Linked DNA regions of Homo sapiens: regions 2, 3 and 4 are each linked to region 1. Evidence: fine-mapped expression QTL. A gene starts in region 1. Each other region holds a variant in brackets. All regions are shown on one strand. Distances are from middle to middle. Region 1 holds the start of SHISA4 (shisa family member 4). Region 2 overlaps IPO9 (importin 9). Region 3 overlaps IPO9 (importin 9). Region 4 overlaps NAV1 (neuron navigator 1).

The links. PIP is the estimated chance that this variant, and not a neighbour inherited with it, causes the effect. A credible set is the group of variants that fine-mapping cannot tell apart.
Region 2: its variant is the best candidate, but not a certain one, in a credible set for the expression of SHISA4 in prefrontal cortex (BrainSeq, PIP 0.67).
Region 3: its variant is the best candidate, but not a certain one, in a credible set for the expression of SHISA4 in putamen (GTEx, PIP 0.52).
Region 4: its variant is the best candidate, but not a certain one, in a credible set for the expression of SHISA4 in whole blood (TOPMed, PIP 0.71).

What each region holds. Positions count from the first base shown.
Region 1 is chr1:201,885,841-201,892,021 of GRCh38, reverse strand. SHISA4 (shisa family member 4) reads right to left here and starts at 3,124. Exons shown (of 5, transcript NM_198149.3): 1 at 2,955-3,124; 2 at 2,406-2,577; 3 at 1,435-1,568; 4 at 454-621; 5 at 1-222. The coding sequence starts at 3,027. The coding sequence ends at 176. RefSeq lists enhancers at 2,987-3,281, 3,122-3,631.
Region 2 is chr1:201,842,585-201,848,765 of GRCh38, reverse strand. IPO9 (importin 9) reads right to left here. Exons shown (of 24, transcript NM_018085.5): 2 at 1,426-1,487; 3 at 1,128-1,214; 4 at 172-373. Among named protein-coding and RNA genes, the nearest start is that of IPO9-AS1, 16 kb to the right of the region's middle. The variant G/C (reference allele first, on the strand shown) is at 2,880.
Region 3 is chr1:201,850,706-201,856,886 of GRCh38, reverse strand. It overlaps IPO9 (importin 9), which reads right to left. Exons shown (of 24, transcript NM_018085.5): 5 at 4,695-4,783; 6 at 3,790-3,876; 7 at 2,173-2,292; 8 at 1,964-2,064; 9 at 1,705-1,763; 10 at 953-1,104. Among named protein-coding and RNA genes, the nearest start is that of MIR6739, 9.6 kb to the left of the region's middle. RefSeq lists an enhancer at 2,112-2,406. The variant G/A (reference allele first, on the strand shown) is at 3,060.
Region 4 is chr1:201,817,462-201,822,291 of GRCh38, reverse strand. NAV1 (neuron navigator 1) reads right to left here. Exons shown (of 34, transcript NM_001389617.1): 34 at 1-2,455. The coding sequence ends at 2,360. All of the region lies in intron 1 of IPO9-AS1 (IPO9 antisense RNA 1), which reads left to right. Among named protein-coding and RNA genes, the nearest start is that of IPO9, 9.3 kb to the left of the region's middle. The variant T/C (reference allele first, on the strand shown) is at 2,944.

The DNA of each region.
Region 1 (6,181 bases):
AGCTCCTGTTCCACTTCCCTGGGGCTCTGTCCCCAGTAGGGCCCAGGGCTTGGCTTGGTCTGGGGCCTGGTGGCTGGAGGACTCCTGCCACCCCCAGGACCAGATGCAGGTACAGGATGAGGGCATCTCCCAAGGTTGGCATCACTGAAGGGGCAGCAGAGACATGGCTGGTTCCTCAGGCTCCCGGGTAAGAGGGCTGTGGTGGCATATAGGGAGGAGGAGCTGAAAGCCAAAGAGACAGGATGAGGGTGAGTGGTGGCATAGGTGGACGAAAAGTAACACCCCTGCCCCCGGGGCAGACAGGACCCATAGGGAAGAGTGGGCCTGGAGGTTTCGGGCTAGAGGTGGAGGAAGTCTGGGAGAGGGAATCTGAGAATGAGAGAGGCACAGGGGAGGTCGCAGGGCAAGGGGTGGGGGAAGGCAGCAGCAAGGGGCTCCAGATTGCTTACTTACCTGCAGGGTTGTAGACTGGGGGCCCAGCTGGGTAGAGTGGATATTGGGGAGCAGGACCACTAGGTGGGTATATGAAGCCAGGCTGTGGGGGTGCAGGGCCAGCTTTGGGGTCCTGGGGGTATGGGTATACTGGCTGCACTGGGATGCCTGTCATTGGAATCTCCTGGCCTAGATGGGGGAGAAGGATCAGCATTCAGAGACCCATCTCCTATGGGAAGCCTCCTCCTCCTGCCCAGGAAACCAAGGTAAGCACCCTGGTGCTGGCCTCTGGCAAGCTCCAGGCTGGCCATCTTTGCCTCCCACACCCTGCTTGGCAGAGTTAAGCAGGGAGCTGTGCACGTGGCCCCAGCTGGTCAATCTGTGTTGAGCAAGTTTGCTCCCCTCAGCAGGTTTCAGAGACCTCATGAACCAGGGAGCACAGCCCAGGGAATATCTCACTTGGGCAAGAAGGGGACAGCTCAGGGCTGGTATCCTGTAATCCAGCAGAGCTGCCACTAAGAGGGTCTTCTCCTAGCCCTTCCCTCCCACACTGATCTCCCGTATGGCATCACTGTCCCCATGTCCATCAGGTTGTGGCATATGTGCATCACATGCCAACACTCAGGCACATATTTTGCCATCCACTGGAGCACACTCAATTAATGTTCATCACTACAGACCTGACCCCGTGTACTTACTAAGAGTCATATGTATGCATACACCCACTGCACCCACTATTGTTGACAGACTGCACTCCTGTACACATTTGAATCTTCATGTGTATGCACAGAAATGCACACAAAGTCTGATGTTCCATATATCCCAGGCACATTCTAATATTCACGGGTTTACAAGCATTTTTCTGGGTTTTCATGCTGGCAGGTGTGTGTATACAGAAGCACATACTACTACAGAATTTACCCAATCCATGAACTCTCTGCTGCCCATTATTGGACTTAGCCCAGCCCATCTGAGGCCCTTCTTGCCCAGTACTGGGTGTACCTTCAAATGGGCTCTGGAGCTGCTGGCGCCGGCGGTACAGGTAGCAACAGGAACAGAGGAAGCAGCAGATGGTGGTGGCAACCACAGCAACAAAGAGGATCACAGCTGAGGCGATGCCTGCTATGGTCTTGGGGCTTTAGACAAAGAACAGGTCCTCTCACCTTCCAACACTCATAGGACGGAGTCCTCATTATGCTGGCTCCAACTCCTGGCCAGCAGGGGGGCCATGGCATGCTGAGATTTGGGGTTCCTTGTGGGGCTCTGCCCAGTCCCTGTGAAGGAGATCTTAGAGGACCTCCACTTCCCAGAAGGCTATGCTGCCTGGCTGGCTAGTGTGAAGCATACGGGGATTTGCAGTGCGCCCCCAACCATTGCTTTTATATCTACAACTTAAATGATTAGACATACAGCATAACACTGAAAGGAGCCTTAGAAATAATCTAGAGCCATTTTTTCCAAACCCCGCTTCAATCAGAAGTCTCTATATCTATTTTATATATGATATATTAAAAAAAAGTTTGACAACCACTAATTTGGCAAGCAATGACCCATAGAAGGCAAGTGTCTTCTCCAAGATCACACAGCTAGTAAGAAGTGGACCTGGGAATCAAACCCAAGTCTCCTGCCTTTGTGCCAGAGCTTCTTCCACAAAGCTACACTGTCGTCCGGGTGTTAACCTTGAACCCTCCCTCCCCATGACCTGGCAGGACCAAAGGGAGGGCTCCAGAAAGAACCTGGAAACCCCGGGCCCAGTCAAAGCCTATGAAGGTAACTAACATGCCTTTTCTGGAACTCCCAGGCACCAGCACCTAAGCACCTAGCTCTGCCGCCAGGCTTGAGTCCTGGTGACTCTATTCAGCTAAGAATGTGGAGGTCGACAACGGAGGAGGCAGGAGTCCGGGAGGGAGGAAGAGGAGGCCTCTGGAGAAAAGGATAGAGGAGGTGGTGAGGGTGAGGAGGCAGGAACCCACCTGAAGGCCAGGCAGTGCTTCTGCTGCCTCTCGGTGATAAGCAAGGTCAGGTCCCTGCAGCAGTACCGATGGTAGCAGGTCCCGCAGCAGAAGGTGAAGAACTCGCAGTTAAACCCCGGATGCCAGGAGCCATTCCGGTCCAGGTACCACAGGCAGTCCTCGCCGGCCAGCACTGCGGGCAGGGATTGGGGGTGCCCAGTGGCCACCAGGCCAGTTCATCCCCAGCCGCGCTCGGCCCCACTCCCCCGGCGGTCCCCAGCCTGACGGCTCCCGAACACTGAGGGTTGCCCCTTGTCTCCACCCTGAGGGTCTCAGCCCCAGAGCCCCCGAGGCCTCTGCCTGAAGCTGACCCTGCACCCCGGGATCAGCCTCCCATGGCCCAGCATCCTGGAGCTCCCTCTTCCCGCTTCTTGAGGACCCAGCAACACCCAAGGCTCCCGTGGCAGCCGGAGGGTCTCGGAGAAGCCCCGAGCCCAAGCCCCTCGGATCGGTCCCTCCCCTTCCTCCGCCCCCATCCCACTCCTGCCGCATCTCTCCCCATCCCCTTACCCAGGGGAGCCCCCAGCACCAACAGAGCGATTGCGGTGAGCGGCGCGGCCCGGCGGAGCCCCGCGGGTGGCATGGTGGGGGCTGGGCGCGGCCGGGGTCGGGCCTCCCAGAGAAGGGACCGCAGGACCAAGCCGGCCAGCTGGAGCTGCGGCGGGGCCCAGCCCGCGGCCAGGCTCGGGCTCCTCTTCCGCCTCCTCTGGGGGTGGGACTAAGCGCCCCGCCCGCGCTAACCCAGCCGGCGCGGCTCCGCGCAGCGCCCAGGAGTCCACCCACCAGCGACGCCCACCTAGCCTCTGGAGCTGGGTGCCCCTCACCCAGCAGAGCACTGCCCTGCTCCCCCTGTCCCCGGCTCCGCGGTGGTTCCTCCCATCCGAGCCACCATGGGCACTGCGGGCAGTTGGGCACTGCGGCCAGGGAAGCCTGGCTGTGTCCTGGACCCGCCCCCGGCCTGGGCCCAATCACTATGCTGGACTCCAGAAGCCCTGATCCTGGTGCCACCTCCGAATGCCCAGACACATGGGCCAACCCTGGAGGAGCAGGGCTGGACCTTCACTTGTGGGGGACCTCCTCTGCCGCGTCCAGCCTGGGACATCCTGTCGGGGGCGGAGAGGGAAAGAGGCTGGATGTCACCCCGCCCCCATTCCCAGAACACAAGCACTCATTGAGAGGCATTCAGAGTGGCTTTGTCCCCAGCGGTGCCCACAGGCCTGAACCCTGCCAGCTGCACTGGCTCCCTACGATGGACCCTTCCCCCTTCAAGTGGACAGAGCTGGCATGCACCAGCCCATGGCCTCACTAGCAGGGAAGGCAGGCTGCTGGGGCCACCTGGGGCCCATCCAGTTAAACACTCTTCACAGTGAAAGCCCTTCACAGAGCAAGCCTGTACTGCAATAGCCACCGGAGCATAGGGAGGGCAACAGTTAATTTCAGGTGGGCAACAGTTAATTCCAGGTGGAGACAGTGTTTTAGGATGGGAGAGGTCAGTCTTCACAGGTTTATACTGAGTGCCAGTGACTATGCCCCATGCTACATGAGGTACCCTCCGAGGAACTGCAAATTAAGCCAGGGAGATCATCAAAAGCCTACCTTAATCCCCTGCCATGTACACCCTTTCACACACTTCTGGGCTTCCACATCTACCTCACTGGAATCTTTCCACAACTCCATGAACTAAGCAAGGTTCATCAGTGTTATCAATCGCATTTCACAGACTGAGAAACTAGGACTCATGGAGGTTAAAGAACTTGTTCAAGGTAATACAGCCAGTAAATGGTAGAGGCATCAGGAAGACCCAAATCTAAATCAGGGTTGATCCCCAGCCGCAACAGCAGACAGTGTAGACAGTGAGTATTTCTTGTGTTCTGGGGTGAGAGAATCAGGACAGGTCCATGGAAGGCCCAGTAGAATCTTAGTAGGTTAGGGAAGGACAGCCGAAAGAGGAGCTACCCCATCCTGGGCCCCTGTGGGTGCTGGCACACCTACCCAAGAGAGCTGGAATAGGAGAGGATAGGCTCCTGCCCCAGAAAGTTGCTGGTAGCCTGATGGGCAAGAGTATGTCCTCACGCAGGACACAGTCATAAATGCAGCAGCAGGGACAAAGAGAAACGCCTCTGAATCCAGCACCACCTACTCAGTGTGCCCATTGCCATCCATCTCCTCTTTCCTACACTAAAAGCTCCATGACTGCAGGGACCACGTGGCTGTGTTCAATGTGGCCATCCAGCCCTAGCCATCAGTGTTGTCATTGTTGGTTGAATCATCTTCAGATAAGGGACTGTCTTTCCTGCCCAGAGCTGAATCTCCCATGTGTACCCTTGACCCCTGCTGATTTGTCTCTTCATTATCCCATCTCTTTAGTGTCTTTAGCTTCTCACACCTTACCAGCTTCTTTTCCCTAGGAAATCTCAAGTCTCTCCTATTTAAAGCAAAGCAAAGCAAAGCAAACCAAACCAAACCACATCCTTCCTAAAACTCATCCCTCTCTAGCTACTTTCCTGCTTTTTTCTCCAACTAGCCTTCCTCAAAGTGTATACCCCTAGTTGACACGCCCTCCTCAAAGTGTATACCCCTAGTTGACACTTCCAGCTTGCAATGACACCTAGCACGCACCAACATCATCAGTGATTTTCTAATTGCAAAATTCTAAGAATGTGTTTCAGTTCATGGGATGGGAGGTGACTAGACTAGGACAGAGAGTGAAGAGAGGGGGCTGTGGGCCAACCAGAGGGGAGAACTGGCTGCACTGGGAGAACTGGCACTTCTTACCTTGACAAGGGATGCTGGAGCTCGGAGATGGAGAGCTGGGGCTAGCTTATGTCGCCATAATGAACCTGGGTCTTGAAAGAGTCTGTAGATTGGCCAGGAGTGAGGAGGGGCTTGGGTGGGAGGACTGGGGGCCCTGGAAGAAGTTGTCTAAATCTTCAGGCCTGGAAGGGCTTCACTACACCTTCTCTAGGTAAGGGCAGGCAGGAATACCCCCCGCTCACCAAGCTGGTCTCTTAATCCCCAGCAAGGGAAAGAAACGCTTTCCTGGAAAAGAGGAGGCAGAGTAATTTGTGATCAGATGAGACAAAACATAGGCTTTGCCAGTAGGAGGTTCTCCTCAGGGTGTCTGGAATATGATGGTAATGATACCACCAGCAGCGAACATTGCTGATGAGCTCATCCCATTGTACAGATGAGGAAACTGAAGTTGGAAGAACTTCAATTCCCCCAGCTCACACTGCTGGGATTTGCAGTTGGACTTTTGTGGCTTCAAAGCCCAGGCCCTTCAGCTTCACCACCTGCTTCTCTTTAAACAAGTCTAAAGGGCCAGGCACGGTGGCTCACGCTTGTAATCCCAACACTTTGGGAGGCCAAGGCAGGCAGATCACCTGAGGTCGGGAGTTGGAGACCAGCCTGATCAACATGTAGAAACCCCGTCTCTACTAAAAATACAAAATTAGCTGGGTGTGGTGGCACATGACTGTAATCCTAGCTGCTCGGGAGGCTGAGGCAGGAGAATCACTTGAACCCGGGAGGCTTGAACCCGGGAATCGCCATTGCATTCCAGCCTGGGCAACAAGAGCGAAACTCCGTCTCAAACAAACAAAAAAACAAGTCTAAAATGTTCAGTGCTATGCCTGGCATAAAAAGCATGTATTCAGGGAAACTTTGATGCCCAGCCCTTATCTCTAGCAGGCCTCTGCATGTGGTGAGAAGGTAGCCAGGGATATCTGAAGTGGGGA
Region 2 (6,181 bases), 43 kb after region 1:
CTAGAAAAAAACAATAGAGCTGGAGGGTAGATGGAGAGATAAAAACTAGGAGGGAGGAATAACATCAGCAGCAATTCCTACTGGTCCAGGCCATTATATCACATAGCTTCTGGTAATACTCCTGTCGCTTGAGATCCAAGTACCAATACCAGGGAAAAGGGCTTCTGGTACCTGTCAGCACACGCATGGCTCCATGGACGGCATTTAAGTCTCCGCTCACCAACATCTCCATGAGCAGGTTGAAGAGTTGGGGCCAAGCTTCAGGCCAGTCCCAGTGGGCAATGGCTGACACTGCATAGGCCACACTGGAGCGCACTTTGCTTATCGATTCTCTCAACCCATTAGGCAATAGCTCCCGGATAACAATTTTTGCCTGTAAGGGATAAAAGTCCACCTGCTATTAGATCAGGTTAAAAGTGACTGGCAGAGCCCAGTTCAATTGGGAACTGTGTTGGAAAAACAATGAGTACAAGGTACTGCATGTCTACAGAAAACTCCTATACACAAACTTGACAATTCATTTGGAGGGTTCATCTGTGATCTCTAAACTTATGCAGTCCATTACAGTAGCCACTAGCTATACATAGCTATTAACATTTTAAAAAATTTAAAATTCAGTTCCTCAGTTGCACTAGCCCCATTTTAAGTGCTCAACAGCCATATGCAGCTAGTAGCTATTGTTTTAGGCAGCACAGACACAGAATATTTCCATAATTGCATAAAGCTCCAGTGGAAAACATTCCTCCAGACCTTATACCTCAAAATTTCTTGGGGACTCAGGATGACTGCACAGTACTGCACTAAGTACAAATGTTATTTCATTTAATTCTTAAACCCTTAGTTGGTATTTTTATTCTCACTTTGGAGATTTAGGAAATTGAGGCTTAGGTGTTAACTACATTTCCAATGATCTCATAGCTTGTAAAAAGCAAAACTGGAATTTGAACACAGACCAGCCTGATACTTGAGCTCTTTAATGTATAGCCCTATGCCCGCAATGCCAGCCACCAATCTCCTTTTCTGCCTAGTCTTTTGATTGCTCCATGCTGTCAAAGAATGTTATAGTCTAATCTCTTAAAATGGACCCTCAAATCTCCTCAGGTAGACTAATCAAGTAACTGACTTACCCTTTCTGTAGTTTCAGGAGGCCTAAATTTCTCTGATTGGGCACACCAGTGAGTCTCCACATATTGTTTCAAGATGACTGATGCCAGCTGTGAAGAGAATAAGCCAAGTAGTACAGCAAGAAAAAGATTTTTTTCACACATAAAAACTATATACATAGCCTGATACATCTGAAGTATATCTAAATCTGGCACAACATCCTAGGTTATTTATACACTGGCCTTATTTTTCTTTCCTATAAGAAAGTTTCATTACCAAGGAAAGGGAAACTATTTATAAATTGGGCCAGTCTGGACTTACCTGACGGATTGCCAGTGCCCCCTGGGGATCTACAGTCAGTTCTGCCAAGTGAACACCAAATTCTGAAAGAGAAAATTTTATTGAGTCTAAGAGTACCTAGGAAAGCCATAGAAATTTACTAAGCTCTAACCCTGATGCCAACAAGATTCCAGAAAGAAACTTAATCTGTTGTTTCAAAAAGAGCTGATAACTGCTAAGACTGATTCCTCCAAGTAAAAGAAACAAGTTGGCTTGCAGGACATGCCTTGTTACAATGAAGTTTCAACACCCTTACACTTTTTCCAGTCACTGCATAGCACCTTCCAGCCATCTTCTCTTCCAAGATGACAACACCTTCCTCTTAGACCAATTAATGTGGTAATTGAAACATGGAGCCTGGCGTGGTGGCTCACGCCTGTAATCCCAGCACTTTGGGAGGTCGAGGTGGGTGGATCACTTGAGGTCAGGAGTTTGAGATCACCTTGGCCAACATGGTGAAACCCCATCTCTACTAAAAATACAAAATTAGCCAGGCTTGGTGATGCATGGCTGTAATCCCAGCTACTCGGGAGGCAGAGGCAGGAGAATCGCTTGAACCCAGGAGGACGAGGTTGCAGTGAGCTGAGATCGCACCATTGTACTCCAGCCTGGGAGACAAGAGCAAAACTCTATCTCAAAAAAGCAAAACAGGCTGGGCGCAGTGGCTCATGCCTATAATCCTAGCACTTTGGGAGGCCAAGGCAGGTGGATCACAAGGTCAGGAGTTTAAGACCAGCCTGGCCAAGATGGTGAAAACCCCGTCTCTACTAAAAACACAAAAAAATTAGTCAGGCATGGTAGCGGGCACCTGTAATCCCAGCTACTTGGGAGGCTGAAGCAGAGAATTGTTTGAACCTGGGAGGCAGAGGTTGCAGTGAGCTGAGATCGTGCCACTGCATTTCAGCCTGGGCTACAGAGCGAGACTCCGTCTCAAAAAACAAACAAACAAAACAAAACAAAAACAAAATATCATGGGACCATCTATTCCTGAGGACAACTTAAAAGGTGAGATTTCACGAGTTGTCCAGATATATGCCACCAGTTATGAGCTGATTAAGTCCAAGAAAACCTGGCTTCAACAAACTTAGTCCTACAAATGAGTAGTTTCCAATAAGCAATGGAACTTGAACTGCACATTGGGAGGCTGTAAGTAACTCTTACTTCCAAATTAAAATTTATTTTTAAAAAATGATTACTAAAATAAATTTTGTTTTAGAGACAGGGTCTCACTCTGTCATCCAGGCTGGAGTGCAGTGGCATAGTAATAGCTCACTGCAGTGTCAAACTCCTAGGCTCAAATGTACTTCCTGCTTCAGTCTCCCGAGTAGCTGAGACTACAGATGCACGCCACTGTGCCTGGCTCCAAATTAGAACTTAGATCTAATATATACTTGCAAAGGAGTCAACTGTCAAATATTTCTTTGTGAAAAGAGGAG[G/C]AAGAATGTAAAACCAACAGTGCATCATAATTTTTACATCTCACATTGTAGGGCTGTGCTATCCAATGCAGTAGCTATTAGTCACAATGGCTACTAAGTACCTGTAATGTGGCTGGTGAGACTTGAGATGCCTATAAATGTAATACTCACTAGATTTCAAACAGTGTGAAAAAAAGAGGAAAATATCTTTTTATATTGATCAAATGTTGCAATAATACTTTGTCTATATCAGGTTAAATGAATATAGAGTTAAAATTTAATTTTATGTTTCTTTTTGCCTTTTTAATGTAGCCACTAGAAAATTTAAAATTTCACACATGACTCATACTATATTTCTGTTGTACAGCACTATGCTAAAGAATGAACAGCAGTTTTCTAGACTTGCTTACTACTGGTAGATACATAGGTCACAATAGGCTCATCACTTCCCTTTGGAGGGAGCTATGGATTGGTGTGATTAAGAGAACAGGCTGTTTAGGTTCAAATCCTGAAGCCACCATGCCTGTCATTAGGTAAGTTTCCTTTCTAAACCTCAGCTTCCTCACCCACAAAATAAGAATATTGGTATCAGGGCCGGGAAAGGTGGCTCACGCCTGTAATCCCAGAACTTTGAGAGGTGGGAGTGGGCGGATCACCTGAGGTCTGGAGTTCGAGTCCAGCCTGACCAACATGGAGAAATCCCGTCTCTACTAAAAATACAAAATTAGCCGGATATGGTGGCACATGCCTGTAATCCCAGCTACTCGAGAGGCTGAGGCAGGAGAATTAATTGAACCCAGGAGGCAGAGGTTGCGATGAGCCGAGATTGCGCCATTGCACTCCAGCCTGGGCAACAAGAGGGAAACTCTGTACGCCCCCCCCTCCCAAAAAAAATACTGGTATCAATATATCAAGCAATCCTTTTAAGACTGAATAATATAATATATGTAAAATGCTTTGTACAATATCTGCCATACTGGTAAAAACTTGAAAACAAAAATAAGTTATTTTGCTATTATTTTTTATTGTCTATCATGAATACACTGTTTGGCTTTCCCATCTATGTTCCACCTTAATTGGATTCTACTGAAATAGCCATCCAAAGGGCATTTATACAATAGAAAAGCTTAATACCAAGAAAGAGTTGTTACATGCAATGTTTCAGGTTCAGGGCTTATCCAAGTAACCAGGTTAATAACTGCTAAAAATGATCTATGTCCATATTTTACAAAATAATTTTTAAAGACTTACAGAAAAGCTGAACAGTACAGAGTTCATGGATATCATTCATCCATTTTCCTCTTACATAACCACGGTTCAGTGATCAAAAATCAGGAAATTAACATGGGTATAATACTATTAACTAAACTAGACTTGATAAGAACTTCACCAGTTTTTTTCCTTATTGTCCTTTTTCCTTCAGGATCCCACATTGTATCTGGTTGCCATGTCTCCTTAGTTTCTTCTAAAGTGTGACAGGTCTTCATTTTTGTCTTTTGTGACCAGAACACTTCTGGTGAATATCGATCAGTTATTTTGTAGAACGTGTCTCAATTTGGGTTTGACTAAAGTTTCCTCATGTTTTAGATTGAGGTTATACATTTTTGGCAAGAATACCAGAAAGTGATGCTGTGTCCTTCTCAGTATATCATATTAGGGAGTACATAATGTTGATAAAAATTTTATTACTGGTTATGGTAACCTTGATCACATGGCAAGGTCTGCTGGGTTTCTCTACTTATAGGTACTGTTTTTCCCTTTGTAACTGATCCAAATCTAGGGAGAAATATTTTGACATTTTGCTATTATCCTGTTTCTTTTCAAAGTCTCACCCACTGATTTTAGCATCCATCTGTGGGTGTTACCTGCCTAATGGTGATTTTGCATTTCTTTTATTCTCTTCACTTTATTAATTGGAATTCTTTTATAAGGAAGTACTGTCCCTTCTCCTTTATTTATTACAATATTATAAAATATATATTTTGGTTTTCATCCATGATTCCTGGTTCTCAGCTCCTGTAAGCCTTATTCTTTCCTAACTGACTACAGTAATAAGAATATCTTTTTTTTTTTTTTTTTTGAGACAGAATCGCACTCTGTCACCCAGACTAGAGTGCAGTGGCGCTATCTCAGTTCACTGCAACCTCTGTCTCCTGGGTTCAAGCGATTCTTGTGCCTCAGCCTCTGGAATAGCTGGAATTGCAGGAGTGTACCACCACGCCCAGCTAATTTTTGTATTTTTCGTAGAGACTGGGTTTTGCCATGTTGGCCAGGCTGGTCTTGAACTCTTGACCTCAAGTCTGCCTGCCTCAGCCTCCCAAAGTGCTGGGATTACAGGTGTGGGCCACCACACCCGACCAAGAATATATTTTCTTAAAAAGTATTTGGCTTTTGTCCTTGGTTCCTGAAGTAGCTCCTGAAGGATAAAGGTGAAAGACAGTCTCTTCTTACTTACAAGATACTTCTTTCTGTCTTTTTTCCCGCACATCACCTCAACTTTCCTTTTCTTTTTTTTTCCCCCATTCCCCTACCTGATGCAATGGTCTTAGGACCAGGGCTGCAACTACATGTGCTGGAAGCAGGAATGATTCCTAGGCAAGAAATTCTAACTACGTATTGTAACTTAGGTCAGAATTCCTAATGGACTGATGGGAATGGGTTGTGCCTTCACCCCATCCAGCAAAATTGGGGCTAACAGTTAATACAGCTATATTGCCTGACAGTAAAAATAGCCCACTAGTTCTGCACCTCTGTAACCTAACCCTATCTGAAGGGGGTGCACTGAGGAAGAGGTACTTGCTAGACTAGTATTGTTGCCTGCAATCTAGACCATCACAGTGGCTGATTGTAATGCTCCTTCCAAAGGTGGAAAAGTTTGGGTACTTATTAAGAGAGAAGAAACAGTAGCTCAGAGGAAAGAAATGAATAAGTGGATTATGAACTGAGAGGATTCCAATATCACATTAACACCTCAAAAGAGGCTCAGAGCAAGAGATGACATTGCTTCTTAGCTCAATTATATCAAACTCATGAAATGGTAAAGTTCTGTGTTTGCTAAGACTACTTCTGCTTTTGCAACCTCACAAGAATGAAAGGAAGCCTGCCAATCTGAGCAGCCTCACCCTGGGAGACACTCATACAATATGATGAACTAGACTATTAATTATTGAATGGGATTCTAGTAATGTGGCAGTATCTTTTGAGTTGGACATCCTATTGACATAAGGGATCAGGGTTCGAAGACCCAAGGGCGGACTGTGATATTGTGAAATATGTATTTGGTCTTCTACTTCATTTCCTGGCAAACAGCTCCTAAAATCCTC
Region 3 (6,181 bases), 35 kb after region 1:
AGTGAGACCCCACCTCTACAAAAAATAAAAAAGTCAACTGGGCATGGTGGCATATGCCTGTGGTCTCAGCTACTCGGGAGGCTGAGGCAGGAGGATGGCTTGAGCCTGGGAGGTCAAGGCTGCCGTGAGCTTTGTCTACACCACTGCACTCCAGCCTGAGCAAAACAGCAAGACCCTGTCCCAAAAAGCAAACAAAACAAAACAACAACAACAACAAAAACTGAAACAAAAACTCTAGCTTAAAAAAATCTTTTCTTTTTGATGTAGAGAAATAAATACTATTAAGTAGCAAGGTAGGTAGCAATGGCTATTGCTCTCTTTTAGAATCTGGCTGATTACTAGCTCTCTGCCAATGTCAACCTGCTGTTACCCTTTGATAGATCGATTTTCTGAATAGATTAAGTCTGATAGACTATTTATTGTGAAAATTATGTCAATTCTTGTGCTGTTTTAAACGAGGCGTTATCTAATTTTTGAACGTTCTTTGCTGCTTTTGATGACCCACCATCAGGCTAATGGTCTGATTATTACATTTTACTTTAGGGAAGGAACAGATTCTCCTAAAAATCAGTGTCTTAGGTTAGTGGTCCTGTGAGATTTTCTAATGGCAAAAGTGGGCCAGGCACAGTCACTCATGCCTGTAATCCCAGCACTTTGAGAGGCCAAGGTGGGTGGATTGCTTGAGCCCAGGAGTTAGAGACTACTAGCCTGGGCAACATAGTATAGTACTTTGCTGGGAAAAAAAAAAAAAAAAAAAGCCAGGTATGGTGGTGAACTCCAAAACCTTGGATTTGGCAATAAAATGATGTCAAACCTTTCCCAGAACTTCACATGAAATTATTCTTTTTGTGTCTATTTTTAGAAATAAAGTGTTCACCTGACCAAGACCTCATATTCTTCAAGTTGCACTTTCCAAATACAAGATGGTAACTGTCTCTCAAATATTATTTACCTGCTCCTCAGTGATTTGCATGTACAGGATAATATAATAAATCAATTCAGGCAAGGCTTTCTTAACAGTGCTTTTGAATTTGCTATTTTCTAGTAGAGCATGGACAAATTCAAAAATGCTAAAGACGAGATTTTCAAAGCCCAGGACTTCACCTGCAGGAAATACAGAAGAGAAGAAATTAATGACAAGAAAGCAAAAGGAAAGCATATATGCAGAAAATGAACTACATAACCTTTGTAAATTACTGAATATTTAAAGTACTTGCTAATGATCATTCCTGAGGAATTGGGAGAGAGGGCTCAGAGGTCACAAAACGTAATTTTGAGGATATTAAATATTCTTTGGTTTTTCAAGTAAAAGAATCAGAAACACTGGATATATTTTCCAGTATGTCTATTGTTCTAATCTGAAATAATGAGAAATGTTAAAACAGAAACGAAAGATTCATGATCTGGGACCCCCAAATGAAACACAACAAAATGCCAGAAGTAGGCTAGATTAAATGGCCTTAAAAGTATCTCTTCCAATGCAGAAATTCTATGATTTTATGAGATTTATGCAACTACCTATGTGGAACAGATTAAAGATTGTCAATTCTCATTTCCCCACATCGAATACATCGAAAATAAACTGAATTAGAAAACACTTAATAGAGTGAAGCCTCTCAAGTTACTGTTTCCCGCCCCCATCTCTGGCTTCTTTTTCTTTTCCCACTAACTGGTATTTCTATAAAGATCAAATAAACTACATACCATCAGAATCCACAGGATCTTCTACTTCTTCTGTGTAATTTACTTCTGTCCTCACATAAGTATGATGAAGAGTAAAGAAATAGAATTTGGAGTCTGCTTTACATATAATCTACATGGAAATGTTACATATTCCAACACTAAAAGTAGACACCTTAAAAAAGCCTGTGTAAGAAGAGTGGAACCATATGAATGTGAAACCCAGTGCGAGATTCCTAACTATAGGTGGTAGTAGCTCCCTTAAACTTTCAAGAAAGGATATAAAGCTGCACTCTCGGTTAGGGTGTTCCAAACAATAGGCAGAATCTGCTGCATGGAGGACACCATGTGCTTTGGGAAGTTTTTCACTAGGGCTGTCACTGCCTAAGAAGTTAAGAGAAAAGGACCCAAGTTATGAGTGATATATAAGAAATAAATGATTTCAGACCAGCCCCTCAAACTCCAAATATTTCATTGGTAGTAAGTGTTTACCTTTAGGACCTCCATCTTAAACCCACTGTCAGATGTGGGGCCATCTGGTATCTGGAGGGCCTGAACAAAGGCCTCTGTGAACTGCTGTACCACGGGAAAGATCAGGACTTTGGCTGCACCCTGATAACAGAAACCAAAGTCAATACTGGACAAACCCCTAATCCATGGCTTCAACACATATATATCAAACACTGATATTTGAAAGGCACCTAAAGCTCTCTTCAGGCTCCAAGCCTGATCAGAAGAGAATAGCTATAAAGTCAATGAAGGTGTTACCTAAGATTTCATTTTTCCTTAACCAGCACTTGCAGTTCTTCATCAAAGCCCTCTTAAAAACTATTATGTAAGACCAACTTTCCTCCTAACTGCTTCTGAATCACAGGGATTGGTATTTTTCAGCTAGCTTTGCTTCACACAAGAGGGCCATAAAAGAGTAGGAAAGTTCTAAGGGATGACTACTATGAAAAGGATATAGGATAAGGTGTTTGAAGAAGTAAGACTCAAAAGAAGACTAAGCTTTTTACAAGTTGAAAATTCAATCAGGCCAGGTGTGGTGGCTCACACCTATAATCCTAGCACTTTGGGAGGCCAAGGTGGGAGGATCACTTGAGCCAAGGAGTTCAAGATGAGCCTGGGCAACATAGGGAGAGACCCCGTCTCTACAAATATAAATTCATTAGGCTGGGCATGGTGGCTCATGCCTGTAATCCCAGCACTTTGGGAGGCCGAGGTGGGTGGATCACGAGGTCAAGATATTGAGACCATCCTGGCCAACATGGTGAAACCCTGTCTCTACTGCAAAACAAAAATTAGCTGGGCATGATGGCGCGTGCCTGTAGTCCCAGCTACTCGGGAGGCTGAGGCAGAAGAATCACTTGAACCTGGGA[G/A]GCGGACGTTGCAGTGAGCTGAGATTGCACCACTGCACTCTAGCCTGGTGACAGAGCGAGACTCCATCTCTAAATAAATAAATAAATTCATTCGTTCACTCATTCATTCATTAGCCAGGAGTGGTAGCACATGCTGGTGATCTCACCTACTCGGGAGGCTGAGGTGAGAGGATTGCTTGAACCTGGGAGGTTGAGGCTGCAGTGAGCTATGATCATGCCACTGCATTCCAGCCTGGGTGACAGAGCAAGATCTTGTCTCAAAAAAAACCCAAATAAATAAAAAAAATACAAATATAGCTGAGTGTTGTGGTTCATGCTTATAACCCCAGCACTTTGGGAGGCTGAGGGGGGAAGACTGCTTGAGCCCAGAAGTTCAAGACCAGCCTGGGCAATACAGTGAGACCCTATCTCTACAAACATTTAAAAAAGAAAATCAGCCAAGTGTGGTGGTGCACACCACACCTGTAGTTCCTACTGGGGGTCAGGGGATCACTTAAGCCCAGGAGTTCAAGGCTGTAGTGAGCCATGATTGCACCACTGTAGTCCAGCCTGGGTGACAGAGCAAGACCCTGTCTGGAAAAATAACAACAATAATTTAATAAAAATGTTAAATCTATCTCTAATACTGGTTAGTGTGCTTTTTCGTGCTGCTATCATGAAATGACTCACTGCTCTGCATGAATAAAACTTTTAAGCATGAAGTCTGTTATTGATCCAAAGACCTGCTTACCTTTTCCAGCTCCTCCATGTTACAGATCATATGGGCACAAGTGGTAAAAATCTCCACGGCTCGGGAACGGGTTCGAATACCATACACCTGGAAGAAAGGTTACAGCATAACAGCATAGCCACGAGACTGGAGTGTGTAGGTATGTGTGTATCTCAGACTAGAAGTAAAACTATGACTAATGAATCCTCACATGAGATTGGATGCCCTCGAGAAATGGGAAATGTAATTCATTTATGTCCAGGAGGCAGACTTCTGTAATTCAGAGAATGAAAGGTAGCAGAATCATAATGTTGGAACTTACTGGAATGAACCTTATATAAGGGCCTCTGTGGGTTCATTTGATTAAAAAATACCAGACTAGGTAGTGCTTAAAATCCCAACACAGCCAATATATTTCCTTTAAAATGCAGACCATTGGTTGGGGGCAGAGGGGAATAGGGAAGTTAAAACATTATCCATCAGGTATTTATACCTTACTATAAATGAGTTATCATTCATATACACACTAATCAAATATATATGCAATATATTAAGGGTCTATTATGTGCAATGCAGTGATAGATTGCTTCCCATTACTTAGCTGAGGTAGGCAAGCGTAGGTGGGATAACTCAGTAAGAGGCTGGAAGTAGCATGAAGGAAGGCACTATTTATCTACTTAGGGGCTACTGGATGCCAGGAAGTACGATATGTGAAGAAATATTTCAGCTATTTCACACTTTTATCAAAGGCTTGCCCTTGTAGTTGAGTGAAAGGTCTAAGGTTAATGCAGATTCAGATCCAGATCTTTGTCAGTTCTAGTTTTTAGGTATTGAGATCAGTTGCAAACACCATAATCTCCCACCTGAAAGGCTGGGGGCTGAAGAGAGCCTGAACTCACTATAATCTTGGAGCTGAGATTTCATACCTCAGCCATGGTGAAGATCTTATACATCTCTGGGAGAATGACAGGAGCAACAAGTGGCATCTGTGTGTCTGTTACTTCACGAGTGAATTCTACAAAGAAAAAAGTAGTACTGTTAAAAAAAAAATACTGCTTCATAAAGATATTAAGTGTGATATTTTCTGAACTGCTTCTAGGTGGCAGTTCCCAAACAGACAGCACACAGGTAAAGACACTGGCCTGGTGGTCTCATTCTGTGAAAGCAAAAGTAGCAAGAGTTACTGATTATTTGTTAGAAGGAGAAAGAATAATATGGAAATAAAGAAAAATACAAGAGATTAAAAAAGAAAACTTTAATATAAATACTGAAAGAAAATCTGTAATAGAACTGCATAAAAGTCCTTGTGAGGTCAACTTGGGAAAATTCTGTATTAATTTATCTTGTGCCCATCTGTCAACATTCAGTTACACTTCGAGGTTTCTTACCTTTGCTTCTGTTTTCAGTACTTTCGCTTGGCAAGCTGGTTTGATGCATGTAATAAAATATGTACAGACTTACTAGGCCTCAACTCCTCTTTGTATATGTTACTCTTCTCAGATTTTATTGACCTAAAAGTCAGAGGCTGCTGCTAACTGGAACAAATGGGAATTTTCTATATAAATGTGACAAAAAGCAACCTATACACAGAATGAGACTCGAAGGTGACGGAAATATGGGTCGTATCTTTCCCTTCACGTCTCAAAAAAAAAAAAACCAAATACACCACACACAAGGCACTGAGACAGCACAAAGGACCCTGGATTCATGTTACAAAGCAGCAGAATAAAGCTCTTGAGTTCCAGTAACTATCCACTTTACCTGATGCTTTTCCACGTTATCACTATAGAAATGGACATATGGGCCGGGAACAGTGGCTTATACCTGTAATCCCAGAGCTTTGGGAGGTTGAGGCAGGAGGATCACTTGAGGCCAGGAGTTCAAGACCAGCTTGAACATAGCAAGATCTGCCAGTACATTTAAAAAAAAAAAAAAAAAAGCTGCATGTGGTGGCATGTGTCTGCAGTCCCAGCTACTTAGGATGCTGAGGCAGGAGGCTCGCTTGAGCCCAGGAGGTCAAGGTTACAGTGAGCTACAACAGTGCCACTGTACCTGAGCCTGGGTGACAGAGTGAGACCATGTCTCAAATAAATAAATAAATAAATAAAACTAAAAATAAAGCTAACCACTTGGGACATTTTGGGGGAAGATACACAGCTACAAACGCAAGCTGGCATTTTCAAGATTAAGGTACTCCACAATTTTGAACAATATCAATCCCCACGAGTCAAATGAAGATCAAATACTCAAGGTTGAATTTTCTTTACAGCTGTAATTTCCTCCTCAAGGATAAAGTCTGAGCTTTGAATGGTGAGTGTTCTATTTTATTTAGAAATTCAAGGAAATTAGTCCAAACAAATATGATAGATGGCATAATAACAAGTTTTATGAAAAATACAGTATAATTTAATTC
Region 4 (4,830 bases), 69 kb after region 1:
TAAGTTAGAACAGCCAGCTCGGGGGCCTCCTCATTCTGCACAGCAGAGACCTTAAGGCAGTGATTTCAGCACCATCCTTGGACACACAGCCTCTTCCCACCACAGAATTGCATATGTTACAGCTGAGTTGGTTAGGGATCTTCACAGCTCATGGAATTAGCAGCAATAGCAATAATAGTCTCCATCATACAGAACCCTGTCATCCATGGGAGCTTACCACGTGGATGCAGAAGCTTTTGTGAGGGGCAGCCCGGACCATCTTTTGGACTTAATATACCGATATGAAGATTCAGATGCATCTACTCCTCGGTTGGGTGGAAGAGTGATCCAGGTTGGTATGCCTATAGATTCTGATAAAGTCTTGTGCTACTTAGGAATCTGAAGAGCAAACACTTAGGCCGGTGCTCATCACATATCCTTGACCTGCAGAGTCCTGAAGCTTCAGCCTACTAGGCAGCTCAGCCTAGAAGCTGGTCCCGCGGGGCTTTCAGAAATGGCAGGAAGTAGACTTGCCCATTCCTGACAAGCAAGATTCCATAGTCCTTCAGGCTCCATCTTAATTGATCCCAGATCTTCTGCCCCCAATGTATTGTACATCTAATCAAAAGCTTCTTTCTAGCTGGCTCCTTGGGTTTCAGCTACATTTCTTAGATGATCCCGAAGGTCTAGATAACAAGGGGGCGTAGCTGAATGGAGGTTAACATTTCCTGCTGGACTGTAAACTTAAGGGCCCAGGTCTTGTGTGTGTGTGTGTGTGTGTGTGTGTGTGTGTGTGTGTGTGTGTGTCTGTTTTAACCTAATGATTTGTATATAGTGAGTACTCAGTAAGTACTTGTCAAATGAAAGAACAGGGATTGCCAGACCTTCAAGGCAATGGGAAAGGAGCAAATCTGCAAAGGTAGGATCTCTTTGGAAGGCAGGTATTGGCCACCAAGTCAAACTCCTTGAGTCTTATATTCTGATTGGGATGATCTCACATGGATGTTCATCTCTTATATGTGAATACTCATTTGTGAAAAATAGTAAGAGCCAGCTAGGATATTTGGATTCAGTCAGGCACCATCAGAATAGTGCAGTGAAAGGCCAAACTGGCCACAAGACAGAGGAATGTTTTCAGTTTTCTGGTTTTCCTCTGGTCCATGATAAAGCTCGGAGTAACTCTTCTATCAAGATGGGGCTATACCTTCTCATGACAGAGGCTGGCAATTGAGCTACCCAGCAGAACGTGTGCTCTCAAAAGGGAAGTCAAGGGAACTGGGTTCCTCTTCTCCCTCTACTTCTGAGCCAATGCTTCATGTCTCATATAAGCCCCATGGATGCCAAAGATAGTGGCATGGCAGGTGTCATGCCAATTGCATGGCATCAGATTCTCCAAAGAAAACCCACTTGGAAAAGCCAAACTAGCCCCTGGAAAAGCAACCCAAGCATCTCGTGGACATGTGAGGAAATGGAAAAACGGAAAAAGAAAAAAAAAAGGGAAACAAAAAAATAAATAGGCAAATGGGAGAAAAAAATGAAAACAAAATAAAAACCAAAAATAAAAAAGTAGGGTTTATTGACTCTTATGCATTGTTAAATTAGAGGGTAGAAAGACAGAGCTGGTAGTCTTTCCCTGAAGGCTGTAAGGTTATTTTTGTGGTTTGGTGACTTCTCAGGTTGGCAGCCGTCTTGTTGATGTCCCCTATGTCATCCAGAGGGCAGGAGCGGGCAGCTCTCTACCTTGGCAACTGGTTCCTCTCTCTCCAGCTTCATCTTTTCCATTGTTTTTTGTTTGTTTGCTTGTTTTTGTTTTTCATTTTTACCTTTTACAGATTGATTTAAACATTTTTTAAACCACATGCTTCTTTTTCTGGGCTCCAGCCAGATCTCTGGGGGAGGAGTTGTTGGCAGTGGTGATGGAATTGGGAAGGGTCTGTGAGAAAATCTGAGGAGCTTCCTGCCTCCCCCAGATCTCCCTCACAAGACTGTCTCTCTCAGGGTTGCTTGTGAGAATCATTTAGGAACTGCTGCAGTGTTTTGATGTTTTCTGAACCCCTCCCCAGAAAGCCCAGGAGTTTGTAATTGAAACAAGAAGTCAAGGGAAAGACCCAGAATCATCTTTTCCCCAAAGTCATTAGAGGAGGCCAGTAAATGTGTTTAGGGGGCACAAGTTCCCAAACGCCACCCCACCATTCCTTCCTAGGAAGTTCTCAAAGGTACAGCACCAAGAACCTGTCCCTCCTCTTTCATCTCCTCCTCCCTCCTGTTCTCCTCCTGGGGCTGGAGAGCCAGTGCTCTGAAAGAGGAGAGGGGAGAGGAGGAGCTAAGATAGCTGATGCCAGCGTTCTGCTGTCCGGGGGTGACAGTGATTGCCGAACCCTTAAAGTGTTGCCTGAAGGTTGGGGTCCAGGATGGTTTCTCGATCTGGAGACTCAATGTAGTTGGCAGCTTCTTGAAGTTTCAGCAGCATGGCCATCTAAAGGGGGGCAAAAAGATGGATTTATGAGAGTTGGGACTCTGGGTCCTGCCCACAGAAGGGAAACAACAACAACAAAATCCCAACACTTTGGGAGGCCAAGGTGGAAGGATAGCTTGAAGCCAGGAGTTTGCAATCAGCTTTGAAAACAAAGAGAGACCCTGACTCTACCAAAAAATAAAAATAAAACAATAAAAAACTGGCCAGGCGTGGTGGCACACAACTACAGTCCCAGCTACTCAGGATGCCAAAGCCCAAGTGGGAGGATGACTCGAGCCTATGAGCCTAGGAGTTTGAGGCAGCAGTGAGCTTTGATATCATCACTGCATTCCAGCCTGGATGAAAGAGCAAGACTCTGTCTCCAAAAAAAAAAAAAAAAAAATCTAGATCATGGGTCTGATCCTTGGTTTCTCAGTGATGAAGAGCTCAGAGTTTAGAGTGGTTTGTGAAAAGGCAATGAGGATTTCTTCAATGATAACTGTGACACA[T/C]GTGTATGTACAACAATTACTTGGGAGTATGCCTGCTATACAAGGGACAAGGTACCATTTATGGAGGAATACCAAAAAAGAATGAGACCACTTCTGCCTGCAGGGTGCTTGCACTCCAGGAGAGGAGGGAAGGCCTGAACATACCAACGAATACTGGGAGGAATGTGAGAAATGCTATAAAATAACAATTTCCCCTTCCAATAGAGTATAAACCAGCAGCTAGACACTGTATTATTATGAACCTATTTCTCTCCAGCTTACCAACCGTGTTGCTTCATGTCAAGTCTAAATACCTCTATGTACTCACTTCCTTCTCTTTACTTACTTTTTTCTCTGGACACGTCAAGATTGGTACTTCCATTTCAGCTAAGTAAGCCTGGTGCATTTTCTGTTGAATCTGCTCTCCACAATTCTCTTCTGTCTACGTGATTATTAATAAGCTTCCAATTTAAAAGCATTTTTATACAGATAGCATCTGTTTTTAACAAAGTCAAAATTTTAATAAAAATGTATTATGATTATTGGAAGAATTTCCTATGGGAAAGATAGAATTGTAAGGTCACAGGATTTGCGCATGTTAAGTTTTAATATAATCTGCCAAATTATCTTCCAAAATGGTTTTATCAACAACCACTCCCACCAGCGGAGTATAAAAGTCTATGCTTCCATACATACTACTTTTGCCAATGTGAAGTGGTATCTCTTGTTTTAATTTGCATTTCCTCAATTATTGGAGAGGCAGAGGATCCTTTTATGTTTTTATTGGCCATTTGCATTTGCTCTAGCCAAATGTCTACTCATATCTTTTTTTTTTTTTTTTGAGAGGGAGTCTCGCTCTGTCGCCAGGCTGGAGTGTGCAGTGGCGTGATCTCGGCTCACTGCAAGCTCCACCTCCCGGGTCCAAGTGATTCTCCTTCCTCAGCCTCCCAAGTAGCTGGGACTACAGGTGCCTGCCACCACGCCTGGCTAATTTTTTGTATTTTTAGTAGAGACGGGGTTTCACCATGTTGGCCAGGATGGTCTCAATCTCTTGACCTCATGATCCGCCCGCCTTGGCCTCTCAAAGTGCTTGGATTACAGGTGTGAGCCACCACGCCTGGCCTTCATATCTTTCTCCTAAGAGATGGGGTCTTGCTTTGTCACCTGGGCTGGAGTGCAGTGGTGTAATCACGGCTCACTGTAGCCTCAACTTCCCAGGCTCAAGCAATCTCCCACCTCAGCCTCCTGAGTAGTTGTGACTGTAGGCATGTGCCATCACACCCAGCTAATTTTTTTGTTTTTCTAGAGATGGGGTCTCAGTATGTTGCCCAGGTTGGTCTTGCACTCCTGGCCTCAAGCCATCCTCCTCCTGTCTCAGCCTCCCAAACTGCTGGAATTACAGGTGTGAGCCACTGTGCCCAGCTGTTTATATCTTTTATCCATTCTTCTGTTTGGAAATTTTAGATATTTTAGATACCAGTCTTTTTCTGGCTACAGGCATTGCAGATATTCCCCCAGTTTGTACTTGGCTTAGCCTGCTTTCTACAGGAGTTCCATGAACTCATTTAGCTGAAGTAGTCTTCAGGATAGCGTCAGAGGAGAAGCAGAAGTAGAGAGAGTGCTAGTGTGCCCTACTGCTCTACTTCTTTGGTTGATATTCCTACATCATGAGATCTACCTGAGACTTGGGTCTTTGCTAGAATACATCTTGCTGGGATGCACTATTATTTAGCTTAAGCCAGGTCTCAGGCATATGATCTTTATAACCCCAGATTCTGATATTTAGAGCTCCTCACTGGCCTTAGCCTGGTCCTGGCTTTGCTAGTGCTCACTCTTTACTCTCCAGGCCCCCATCAGTGTATGTATGAAAAGTGTGAAGAATTCAGGGTTTTTTTTTAACTTATTTTT